3 separate regions of the Homo sapiens genome follow, and regions 2 and 3 are each linked to region 1. The links come from fine-mapping of genetic effects on gene expression. A gene starts in region 1. Each other region holds a variant in brackets. All regions are shown on one strand. Distances are from middle to middle.

Region 1 (4,173 bases):
AAGGAGCCCAGAAATTATTCATAACATATCCAACTCTCTCCTGTTTACCTTGATTTTTTTAAAGTATCAGTTACCCATAAAGACCCTAACAAATATGAAAAGGAAAGGCAATTATAAAAGATCCTTCATTATTCCACGCACAAGAGTCAAAGATTTTGCCAACAGCCTCACTTTATAAATGCAAAAATAGGTCCAGAGAGAGAAAGTAACTTGTCTAAAGTCACACAGCAAGTGAGATGGCGGGACTAGAAGCCACGTCTCTGGCCACCCTCTGTGTGGTCTCCCTGAAAATTGGTGGTTCTCACCAGCAGCTTCTCGGTTCGTCAGCTCCACTGCCCTCTGCCCATACTTCCCACTGTCAGCCTCCTTCCCCTCCCACCCCCAACATACTCTTCTTCTCAATAGGGACCCAGGTCTGTCTCAGCTACATGCTGGGACCATTAAAGTCAAGAACATTGCCACTGACACTGTGCCTGGTGCCAGCACACTCCTGAGACACAGCAGGTCAACCACAGCACTCACCTCAACAGCGCCTCCCTCACCCCACCTGAGGGGCACCCATGCCAATGATGCACAGGTATCTATCTTCTTAATCATCTCTGCTGAGGGGCCAGGCTGCAAATTACCCATCTCCCCAACCCCAGAGAAAGTCTAGGTGCTTAGGGGAGAACAGAGACTATGAAAATTATACCATGAGGGATTCCAGGTAGATCTCAGAAAGGACTTCCAGGTGGGAGAGATGAGTTTGGAGAACTGGTAGGGGGGAAGAGGAGTGTGCAGAATGGGACGCCTCCCTCCACCCCCTACCCCAGTGCCCCATCTAGAGCCAGAGTAGCTGAAAGCCAAAGGCTGCCAGGGCAAATGGGAGCAGGTGTGAGGAGGGGGACTCTTGAGGCTGGGGGTGCAGAAGCAGCAAGTTGCTTCTTCCTGGGCCCACTGCCTCTCTACTGACACCAAATAGGCAAGGGAAGGTGACCGAATGGCTGCTGCCTTCCCAGGCAGAGACGCTGTGTCCCCACCATCCCCCTGGCTGCTCCCACCTATCCCTAGCCTGGATCAGCTTTGGGGTCGGGGGTGTGGCAGAGAAGAGGAAAAGAAGGCATGGCTGGGGCAGGGGCCTCCCCAGGCTCCCATCTCATCAGAATTCAGCCTTGCCTGGGGTGATCAGGGGTCCTGATGACTCTCCCGCTGTCCCCTTTCAGAGCCCATGGCCACATAGAGCCCCCTCTCCTAAGGTCCCTCCAGTATCCTTCCAGGAGAGAAGGAGAGGTCCGGGCATCGGTGTCTCCACCGTCACTCACACACCCTATGTGTTTGGGAAAGTGGGGTCCCTATCCACCTGCCCACAGCCCACAGCTCTCCTGGCCTCCTGCGGACAATGCCCCCCTCGCGGACATCGCCAGGCCGTCCACACCTGCCCATGCCCACACCTGACTGCCCGTCCCTCCCCGCCCCCGGCCCACCCGGGCCGGCTCCCGCCAGTCCTACCTGCTCCGGGCTGGGGGCTCAGCGCCCGGGCAGCCTCCCTGAGCACCAGCACCAGGAGCCAGAGCTCGCCTCGCATGGTGGGTGCCCGGACCTGCCCCCGGCCTGCTTGCTGCCCCGGTCCTGACGAGGGAGGGGGCCCTGGCTCAGGCTGCGGCCGCGCGGTCCCCGGGGCTGGCGGAGGGGCGGGCGGCGAGGAGACGGCGGAGCGCGGGGCCGGGCGAGCCGGCAGGAGCGGCGAGAGCGCGAGCGGAGCTGGAGGCTGCGGCCTCCGGGAGCAGGCGGGGAGCTGGGGGGGCCGCTGGGTCGGTGGGGGTGGGGGGGAGCTGGGGCAGGGGGCGGGGCGGGGGGCGCGGCGTCGTTGGGGGCTCTCCCGGCGCCTGCCCTCAGCCCTAACGGAGCGCTCCCCTAGAGCTCTGCAGCCGCTCCCAAGGCAAGGGGTGCAGAGTAGGGGACAGGGCGGGAGCCCCTCGGGCTGAGAGAACCCCTAGAAGCATCAGCCGCCCCGCGCTCCTCACTGAGCTCCTGGCTCCCTTTCCCTCCTCCGTTCCGCCGGGAAAGCTGCAGAGAGAAGGCCCGAGGACTGGACCCCTGGAAGGGACAGGCGCCCCATCCCTGGGTCACGGGCCCCTGACTGTTCCCCGCCCCCAGCTCCTCCAAGCTCTGCGACTTCCTGAGCTGTTCTTCGGAATTCTGTGCGTCTCTGATGCTTTGTCCTCCAGCCCCCACCCCCAGAAATCTCCCCCTGCAGCAAAGACCCCCAGCTTTTCTCCCCAAGAGGGGCCTGAATCCCACCCCCCTTCCATGACTCCACCTTATCCCTCCACCCCCCATTTCCAGCACCGATTTGCCCCCCAAGCCTAGCAGACGTGAGGGTGGAGGGGGCCTGGCTACCCCTTACTCTGCAACAGTCTGGACCCCTCCCCACGAGTAGGTAACCCAGGCCTCCTGCCTCTCTGGGGCCTCCAGGCCTACTCAGGGCCAGACCCAATCAATCTTCAGAGCCAGCCCCAGACGAGGAAATGGCTCACCCCACCTGTCACCACCTTCTGACAGGCTCTGGGGATAGATAATCTTTTTATTTTTTCTTCCAGGACAGAATAAAAATACCCGCAATGTAGGATATTTAATAGACGGCAAGGAATCAGGTCAGGACACGAAGATGCCTCTTCCCTCCCCTGACCTACTTCGTTCTTGTGACGGCAAGGAGCTGGGGCGCTGGAGAGTGGGAGACGGGGTGAGGGGGCATCCTGGCTTCTAGTGGGCTGGGGCCTAGGGACTAGAAAACCGCGGAGAGGAAGGGTGCGAACGCTGAGCGCCATTGGAGAAATTTTCCAGGAGGAGGGATATGGGCGGGGACAGGAGAAGGTACACTGTGGGCTGGAAGAGACGGATTCCGTGGCACTGAGGTTAAAAAAAAAAAAAAGAAAAGAAAAGAAAAAAAAACACCTAAGAAAGGAAACAACTAAAGGCTCTCTAATCTCTTAGAACGCCGGTTCCTCCTTCCGCCGGGCCCAGAGTCCCAGAGACTACCTCCTCCAGCCCTAAACCCAATGTCCCCTTACCGTGGAACAAGGCAAGGCCGGTCTGTAAATTCTTCTTGATGTCTAATTTAAATCCCAACTTGGCGGACTCTCAAACAGAATCAGATAGGCAGCTACCTCCAGCTGCAGCTACTTGCTGCCCTCAAGTGGCCACGTGACGAGCCACAACCCTCTTGTCCTGCGGGTTTCCTCTTTCCCCAGCCTGCCCACCCCCTGTCTCCGACCTCCTGCCTTCCTCGAGGTCAAGGTGAGAAGTCTCGGGACGGATTCCAGCTCCAGCCCCGGCGTCTTTGCACATTCCTCCATCTGGGGTACCTCGTGGTCTGTCTTACAAGAAGAGCTCAGGCTGAAACATAAACTTGTAAATAGTAGAAGCAAATGTGTAAATTTTAACGTAAGCCTCTAGAACTTGAGATCGTAATCACCTGCAGGGTGTGTGTGTGTGTGTGTGTGTGTGTGTGTGTGTGTGTGTGTGTGTATTTTGTTTGTTTTTTGAGACAGGTTCTCGCACGTTGCCTAGGCTGGAGTGCAGTGCTGCGATCATAGCTCACTGCAGCTTCCAACTCCTGGACTCAAGCGATGGGGAGCGTATATGAAAACACAGATTTCTGGACTCCACCCTCAAGTTTCTAATTCATTAGGTCTGGGATGAGGCCCGAGCGTACCCAGGTAATGCTGCTGGTCCCAGGACCACATTTTGAGAGCCACTGCTGTTGAATCCCCAGTTCCTTTCAGTCCCTCACTGCTCCTCGTCTGCCAGTAGGAGTAAAAGCAAACAGCTTAGGAAAAATCGACACCCAGGACAAAAACAGTATCTCGAAAAGGCCAAAGAGGGGGCACCCGGATTTGAACCGGGGACCTCTTGATCTGCAGTCAAATGCTCTACCACTGAGCTATACCCCCTCTGCCGGCAAACCGACCGCACGTAGTCGTTTAGTGGTATTGCTGCGCAGGCGCTGTGTGGCGTTCCCGAAGGGAAGTGGAAGTGGGGTAAGACGTTTACAAGAGATGGAAAAAATACAACTCCCAGAAGAATTACTCACTTGGAAGCAGGGGTTGTTCCCTGAAGCTCTGAGCTGAAGATCCCCACTGGCAGTATAAGAAAATATATTCCTGGGGTGTGGAAGGAGAAGTCTCTCGAAAT
Region 2 (4,173 bases), 95 kb before region 1:
CAGGAATTATGTAACCAGAGGCCACAAGATTTCAAACCTACCCAATTGCTCCTATAGATAACATTGTTGTAGGCTGGGCACAGTGGCTCATGCCTGTAATTCCAGCACTTTGGGAGGAGGGGGGTGGATCACTTAAGGTCAGGAGTTCAAGACCAGCCTTGCCAACATGGTGAAACCCTGTCTCTACTAAAAATACAAAAATTAGCCGGGTGTGGTGGCAGGCACCTGTTACCCCACCTACTTAGGAGGCTGACGGGGGAGAATCGCTTGAACCCAGGAGACGGAGGTTGCAGTGAGCCAAGATTGCGCCACTGCCTGGGCAACAGAGGGAGACTGTCTAAAAACAAAACAAAACAAAACAAAAAAAACCCCATAACATTGTTATAGTCTCAGCAATGCACCAAGATTTAACAGTCGCTCCTTGTCTGAGATAATGCGCCCCAGAGTTCTTTGTCCTACCTCCAAGACAATTAAGGAGAGCAGACACAAAGGTGAGGTTAGAGTGAAAGTTTAATAAGCGAAAGAAGAAAGCTCTCTGCCAGCAGAAAGGGAGTCCCACACGGGTGCCCCTATGAGGCTGATGTCCAGGGTTTTTAAAGACTGGGAAGGGGAAGGAATGTGGTTAGTTGCCCCAGGACCACTCAGGAGCTGAAATGATGATTCCTAGATGCTGCTTAGCTTGGCCCAGGACCAATCACGAGCTGAAATGATGATTCCTAGATGCTGCTTAGCTTGGCCCAGGACCTATCAGGAGCTGAAGTGAAAGCTTGGCCCCGGACCTATCAAGGGCTGAAGTGATAATTCACAGAGGCCAAACTTATAGTCCAAAAAGGAAAGTAGAGTGTCCACTGGAACCCACTGGAGCCCACTGTAGCCACGCCCACAAAAGGAGAAGAAACTTTGTCCTGGGAGGCCGCTGACTATACAAAGGACAAAGACATTTCTATGCCAGGTCTTGTTCCTTTATGTGAGTGAGATGGAAGTTTGTTGAAGTTTTTATCCAAATGGACCTGAGGTTTTTCTATCTGTGCAGCCGTGGGCATGTCTCCAGGCACAACACCCTGTGCCTGTTCCCTTATGGGTGCCTGCAGCTTGAATGTTTTCCCAGGCTGCTTTTTCTGTTGTGTGGGGATGAGGCACTGACCTGTGGGCCGGGAGCTCTCTGGGGACCCTTCCCTTGTTATCTACCTAAGGCAAGCTAACTAACTCCTTTCAATATTACTATTGTAAAACCTAAGGGCCGGGCGCGGTGGCTCATGCCTGTAATCCCAGCACTTTGGGAGGCCGAGGCGGGTGGATCACAAGTTCAGGAGATCGAGACCATCCTGGCTAACACAGAGAAACCCCGTCTCTACTAAAAATACAAAAATTAGCCGGGCGTGGTGGTGTGTGCCTGTAGTCCCAGCTGCTGGGGAGGCTGAGGCAGGAGAATGGCTGAACCCGGGAGGCGGAGCTTGCAGTGAGCCAAGATTGCGCCACTGCACTCCAGCCTGGGCAACAGAGCAACACTCCGTCTCAAAAAAAAAAAAAAAAAAAACCTAAGATTGGCGTTCTAGGTATTTTTCAGACCCTGTATTCTGATGGACCAGCTGGGACCACTCAGATTGGCAAACTGGCTCATCTGGTCTTGTGGCCCCCAACCAGGAATTCACTCAGCACAAGAACACAAGTTTTGACACCCTATGATTTCATCCTTGACCCAACCAATCAGCATTTCCCACTCCCTAGCCCCCAGCCTGCCAAACTATCCTTAAAAAACCCTAGCTTCCAAATTTTCAGGGAGGCTGATTTGAGTAATAATAAAACTCCAGTCTTCTATTTAGCTAGTTCTGTGCTTATTAAACTCTTTCTCTATTTCAATAATGCTGTCTCAGTAAATCGGCTTTTCTGGGCAGTGGGTACAATGAACCCATCAGGTGATTACACTGCTCTACCACGTAGCTGATTATGACACCTACCCCTCTCAGACACTATCAGCTCCAATTTGGACCTATTCTTTGAATTTTTTTTTTTTTTTCAAAATTGATCTCTACTTCTCATTCAAACCTCCCATCTCCCACATCATCTGACCTCCACAAGTTCACGTACACAATTCCCCAGAATCACGTAGGACAACTAGGAAATTCTTTTTAAGGATTTCATGCTAGACTGTTAATAGCTTAGTGAGTTATACTTTTATTTGAATATGTTAAACTCCTTAAAAAAAAACCTCTTAAGTCAAAAGATTGCATCTTTCATGGTTATTTCCCACAAGCTCAGTAGGTAGTGCTAATACTTAGTACCCTAATCTCCAGCAGGAGTGAAGATGAAACTGGCTGCTATAAATATGTCCCTACCCTTTCATGCTGTCAGGCCATTTTGGGACTGTACCCTAAACATGCACTTGAATGGAAGTTCTAAACTCAGGGATCGTGGCGGTGTGGCTGGAGGACAGGAACAGGCTCAGAGGCCGGCCCCAGGTAGGAGGGGCGAGGGAGCGATCCGGGCGCCGCCCCTCCCCTCGCCTGCGCCTCTTTTTTTAAAAAAAGCGTGGGCGTGCCTTGCGCAGGCGCAGTACTGCGCGAGCCTTAGCCGCGCAGGCTCAGCGAAGGGAGG[C/A]TGGCGGATCTGCTACCTTTTGCGGTTCCCACCAAGAGTGACAAAACCTTGCTAGTGTGGGAGCTGAGCTCTGGACCCACGGCCGACGCTTTGCATGTGAGCCTGGGCCAGGGTGGAGGGAGGGATGGAGAAAGCCGCCCACCTGCTAACTGGGAGTTCCAGAGTCCTGCTTCAGCACCTCACCTGCCTCAGCCTCTGCTGAAGGACTCTTTTTTTTTTTTTTTTTTTTTTTTGAGACACACTGTTGCTCTGTTGCCCAGGCTGTAGTGCAGTGGCGCGATCTCTGCCCACTGCAGCATCCGCCTCCCGGGTTCAAGCGATTCTCCTGACTCGGCCTCCGGAGTAGCTGGGATTACAGGTGCCCGCCACCACACCTGGCTAATTTTGTATTTTAGTAGAGGCGGGGGTTTCACCTTGTTGGCCAGGCTGGTCTCGAACTCCTGACCTCAGGTGATCCGCCCGCCGTGGCTTCCCAAAGTGCTGGGATTACAGGCGTGAGCCACCGCGCCTGGCCCGCTGAAGGACTCTTAATTCTAGAGGGGACCCCAGCAGACAGCTACCCCAAACAGATTTTTAGAGTCCCGGAGAGGTACCTCTCCAGTCAGCACATTTTACCTTCTAGGACTTCTTCAAGTTTAGGATCTTAAGAAGAAAACTTGTTGGTTAAGTGGGAAGTGTTTTGAATTGCATCCTTCTCGAAGAAGCGTTTGGGGAATATGAAGGCATGGGCGGTTTTGTTTTCTGGGCGTGAGATTTCATGCGCTTATTTGGCGTAGGACCACCCCCACAGCTTTCACTGTTCACAGCATTTTCCCAGTTTGACCTTTTGTATTCAGTCCGGGTCTTCCCAAATGCTGCAGTGGCCCATTCTGGTTTCTATGGCGTCATTAAGTTTTATTCAGCAATGGCTGTCCACGGAGCCCAAAAGGCATGCCACCGGAAGCAGCTTTTTCAGACATCTCCTGTCAAGGTGGCTCCAAATATGGAATTCCTAGCTCCGCTGAAATGAAGTGCTGAATTCAATAATAGATTAGCATTTGTCCAGCACTCTGGTTTACAGAATATTTTCAGATGCATTGCCACACTAATCTTCCAGTTCTCTGGTTTTTTTAGATTAAGAAACTCAAACTCAGGGTGGTTAATTGACTTGCTTAAGGTTCCTGACAAGAATTATGGAAGCTTAAGGTTGAACTCAAACCTACTGATGCTAAACCCCATGTCATTTTATGCTGTCCCTTTTTAAGAAATCTCAGCTTGGGCAACATAGTGAGACCCCATCTCTACAGAAAAAATTTAAAGATCAGGCTGGGCACGGTGGCTCATGCCTGTAATCCCAGCAGTTTGGGAGACTGAGTCGGACGGGTCACTTGAGACCAGGAGTTCGAGAGCAGCCTTGGCAATATGGCAAAACTCTATCTGTACTAAAAATACAAAAACATACAGTTCCCTATTGCGCTGTGCCTCAGTGGCCTCCTGTGTAGGGTAGAGGTAGCAACAGCACCCACCCCATAGATGACGATACAAGTAAATCTCCTAAAATGTGCTTGGAACATAGGAAACACCCAGTAAATGTGAGCT
Region 3 (4,173 bases), 63 kb before region 1:
TGGCTCACACCTGTAATCCCAGCACTTTGGGAGGCCGAGGTGGGTGGATCACTTGAGGTCAGGAGTTCAAAACCAGCCTGGCCGACAGAGTGAAACCCTATTTCTATTAAAAATACAAAAATTAGCCGGGCATGGTGGCGGGTGCCTGTAATCCCAGCTACTTGGGAGGCTGAGGCAGGAGAATCACGTGAACCTGGGAGATAGAGATTGCAGTGAGCCGAGATCACACCACTGCACTCTAGCCTGGGCAACAGAGTGAGACTGTCTCAAAAAAAAAAAAAAAAAAAAAGAAGAAGAAAAAGAAGAAATGCCACTGAGGCAGGGAGAAGGCCATGGCTTCAGCAGGAAGCTGGGGGCACCACAAGATGGGAGAGGAAATGAAGACCTTCATAAAACAACAAGAAGGAAGATGCTGTACTCCTTCCCGCAGTCTCAGCTGTCCCAGCCCCATCCCGAAGAGCATCCACCGCGGATCCTGTGGGCTCCACAACAGCAGGTGGCTGCCTTCAGCATGGGTGAGTGGGGTGCAGAGGGCCAGGGTCCCATGGTTTATGGAGGCCACCTGCTAAGTCCCTCCATTGCCTCCTGCCTGTGGACCGCAGCATCACCTCCTCTAAGGAGAATACAGTGACAAACTGAGGCCCGTCTAGTTCCTGGATCACCTTTTCTGGGGGCTCAGTCTAGGCGTTCTCAGAGGTACAGCTTTCCCGGGTTTCAATTATGTGGGAATAACAATAGCTGTCCTAGATCAAGCCCTAACCCCCACCCCAAACCCAGAATGGACCCATCAATGTCAGAGCTGCGGCCGATGTGCTCAACTCCACCTAGGTGGTTCTCACCCTTACCCTATCTCTGGGAGGGAGGTGGCATCAGGCTCGGGTTACAAAAGAGAGATGGAGGGCCCCGAAAAGTTAGGTGGCTGCACAAAACAGGAGTCAGTCATGGGCCTGGGACATGAAGCCAGTCTGCTTGACTCCAGAGCTCTTTCTGGGATGGCGGAATGACCCCTACTCACTCGGCAATGGGGTGAACTCCACGGCCGACATGCTGGTGACCTTGCTGGGGTCCAGCTCTATGCGGTGATATTCAAAGATGCTCCTTCGCCGAGATTCTGAAACAGAGGCAGAGCCTGTTGTCAGGAGCATATCACAGGCAGAGGGCATCGAGGCCTCTTCCCGGACAGTCTGACAGGTCAGCCTGCTGCACTGAAGGCAGTAAGTGCACCCAGCAGCCTGGGACAATGATGTTGGCGCTGCTGGAGACAGGGACAGGTGCGGACCTGGAGAGGAGAGTGTTGTGGTGTGAGGCTAAGTGACTCAACGCAGAGACCTGGCTGCTCTTGGGGGCAGGACAAATGGGATCCCATGCTTGCTTCTCCTTGCCTCTGCGCCTTCACAACTGCTATTCCCCTGACCCAAGATGTTCTTCCACCCCTTCTTCCTGTCTAGCTCATCCTTGCAGATCTAGCTCAAGGGCCACTTCCCCTGAGCAGCCCTCCTTGGCCAGCTCCCTCCTCTGCCTGGCTCAGGCCAGGTGCCCCCCTCCCACTGCACTCACCACACTGTGGACATGAGGGTCTATTTGGAGGCTGGGGATGTGTGAGACCATGATCATCTGGTCCTGAACCTCGCTGAGTGCTCTGTGAATGTCTGCAGATGGACAGGCTGACTTTTGCATGTTGCTGTCCACCATCCACCTCACCCCTCCTGGACAAATCCCCCAGCAAGGCTCAGGGCTTGCAGCCAGGCTCGAGTCCTACTTTGGTCCCTGCAGAAACTTCTCACAGGACCTCAGAGTCAGGAGATCCAAGTTCGTTCTAGTTCTGCTCACGACTTGCTGGATAACCTCAGGCAAGTCATTTGGACCTCAGTTTCTTGTCTGTGGAGTGGAAAGACAGAAACACCTACCACAACACCCTTGGGAGGAAAAAGCTGGAACTGTACATGAAAGGCTTCTTTTTTAAAATGACAATCTGAGGTGCTCTGATACTTCTCTCTAGGCCACGATACCCACCCAGGAACCATGACTTGGGGTTGGTTTTCTTCAATTTTGAAAGGCAGGCAGCCCAGCCAGGCATGGTGGCTCATGCCTGTAATCCCAGCACTTTGGGAGGCCGAGGCAGGTGGATCACTTGAGGTCAGGAGTTCGAGACCAGCCTGGCCAACAGGGTTTTTAGTAGAAACCCTGTCTCTACTAAAAATACAAAAATTAGCTGGGTGTGGTGGTACACGCCTGTAATCCCAGCTACTTGAGAGGCTGAGGCAGGAGAATCGCTTGAACCTGGGAGGCAGAGGTTGCAGTCAGCTGAGATTGTGCCACTGCACTCCAGCCTGGGTGACAAGAGCAAGACT[GAAA/G]AAAAAAAAAAAAAAAAAAGAGAGAGAGAGAAAAAGAAAGAAAGAAAGAAAGAGAAAAAGAATAGAAAGAAAAGAAAGAACGGAAAGAAAGAAAAGAAAGAAAAAAGAATAAGAAGCAGACAGCCAGGAATTGAGCTTTGAGAATGAGTTACCCCACAAGAGGAAAGAACCACTCAGTGTTTGGTCCGCCCAACACCCTTTCGTCTTCTGGAAACAGCAGCATTCCCCTTGGGGTACTGTGCCTGGCCCATTCCTACAGGTGGGCTGAACCACAGCTGCCATCTTCTTCCATGATCCTGCCTCTCTGGCCACGCTGTGATTGTTCCAGGCCTGGGTATCGGCTGTGAGCTGGACCAATCAGAGACCTCCCCTGGGACTTTTCAACTGTAACCAAGAGGCCTTTTGCTGTCTGGTAATGAAGCTGAGAAGATGCAGGCTCAGAACCTGTGAATGGCCACAGTACCGGGCTCATGGGGAAAGGCAGAGAATGAAGCCACCTCATGGAGAGAAACAGGAAGTGCTGGTATGTTCTGGGCCCTGGGGTTCCAGGACCTGCCCCACTATTCAGCTCTTCTTTTGGTTCTTTGGGCTACTTCAGTATCCTCCGTGCACCCCCCTTTTCCATTTAAGCGAGTTTGAATTGGGTTTTCGTCACTAGAAGTAGGTGGGGACATACGTTTCTCGCTCGGCTGAAGGTGGTTTGGAGGAAAATTTCCCAAGGTGGCAGAAGAGCTGAGTAGGGGCATCCACAAAGGGGTGGGCGTCCCGTGCCACTGCTGGGTGCCCCACCCCCACATCCCCTCCTATGTAAGGAACCTAGAGGAGCTTTGTCCATGGTTCACATAGTATCTCATTATTTATTTACTTATTGAGACTGAGTCTCGCTCTGTCACCCAGGCTGGAGTGCAGTGGGATGATCTCGGCTCACTGCAACCTCTGCCTCCCAGGTTCAAGCAATTCTCCTGCCTCAGCCTCCCGAGTAGCTGGGATTACAGGTGCCCACCACCACACCTGGCTAATATTTTGTATTTTTGGTAGAGAGGGGGTTTCACCATATTGGCCAGGCTGGTCCCAAACTCCTGACCTCAGGTGATATGCCTGCCTGAGACCCCCAAAATGCTGGGATTACAGGTGTGAGCCACCATGCCTGGCCTGTATCTCATTATTTATTTATCCTTAACGTTGGAATTAGTCCCTCCTACTTAACCCAGGACTGCGCCCCCGTGGGTCTGGCACCAAAGCATGCTCTCTTCCCAACACAATGCCCTGCTGCAGGACACTTCAGCCCCTGAAACATTCAAGACCTTGGAATGTCATTCCATGCAGTGAAAAGAAGACTACTCTGGCATTGGTGTCAATAAAGATTCCCTGGAGCTGAGCAGCATCTACATCCCTGAGGCCTGTCTGAAATGCTGGTGCCCCCCACTCCCATGCCACTAGGAGGGTGCACCTGCTACCCACAGGCCAGATGCTGCTCCAGGCCGAGTGGAAAGGGGAAAGCAGATGGGGGCACTGATGAGAGCATGGAGGAAAAGAAGCTCGGCCCCCGGAGGGTGACCACACAAGGAGAGGAGGCTTAGGGTTGCCGCAGCTGGGCAGACAGGCTCTGCCCTTACCGCCTGTGTGACCTTGGACAAGGGACTCAGTGAGCCGCATCCACACATGGGGCTGGTGATGCCATGCAAATGGTGTTGTCCTGAGAATTAAGGGAGACACTCAACGCACAAGGACCCCAGGAGCCCTCGAAGCATGTGAGCCCCTTTTCTCTCTGCCCCGACTGCTTTTTTGCTGTTCTTCTCATGGCTGAGACTCTAGGGCA

The links.
Region 2: its variant is fine-mapped to the expression of PLXDC1 in neural progenitor cells (Aygun 2021, PIP 0.90).
Region 3: its variant is fine-mapped to the expression of PLXDC1 in whole blood (TwinsUK, PIP 0.95).

The regions. Positions count from the first base shown.
Region 1 is chr17:39,149,874-39,154,046 of GRCh38, forward strand. PLXDC1 (plexin domain containing 1) reads right to left here and starts at 1,764. Exons shown (of 14, transcript NM_020405.5): 1 at 1,489-1,764. The coding sequence starts at 1,564. TRC-GCA2-3 (tRNA-Cys (anticodon GCA) 2-3) reads right to left here and starts at 3,932; the gene lies at 3,861-3,932. RefSeq lists enhancers at 3,268-3,417, 3,790-4,173.
Region 2 is chr17:39,054,469-39,058,641 of GRCh38, forward strand. It overlaps the pseudogene RDM1P5. Among named protein-coding and RNA genes, the nearest start is that of LINC02079, 29 kb to the left of the region's middle. RefSeq lists a silencer at 2,393-2,632. The variant C/A (reference allele first, on the strand shown) is at 2,596.
Region 3 is chr17:39,086,592-39,090,764 of GRCh38, forward strand. It overlaps PLXDC1 (plexin domain containing 1), which reads right to left. Exons shown (of 14, transcript NM_020405.5): 8 at 1,016-1,111. It also overlaps the pseudogene RDM1P5. Among named protein-coding and RNA genes, the nearest start is that of LINC02079, 62 kb to the left of the region's middle. RefSeq lists an enhancer at 716-1,216. The variant GAAA/G (reference allele first, on the strand shown) is at 2,352.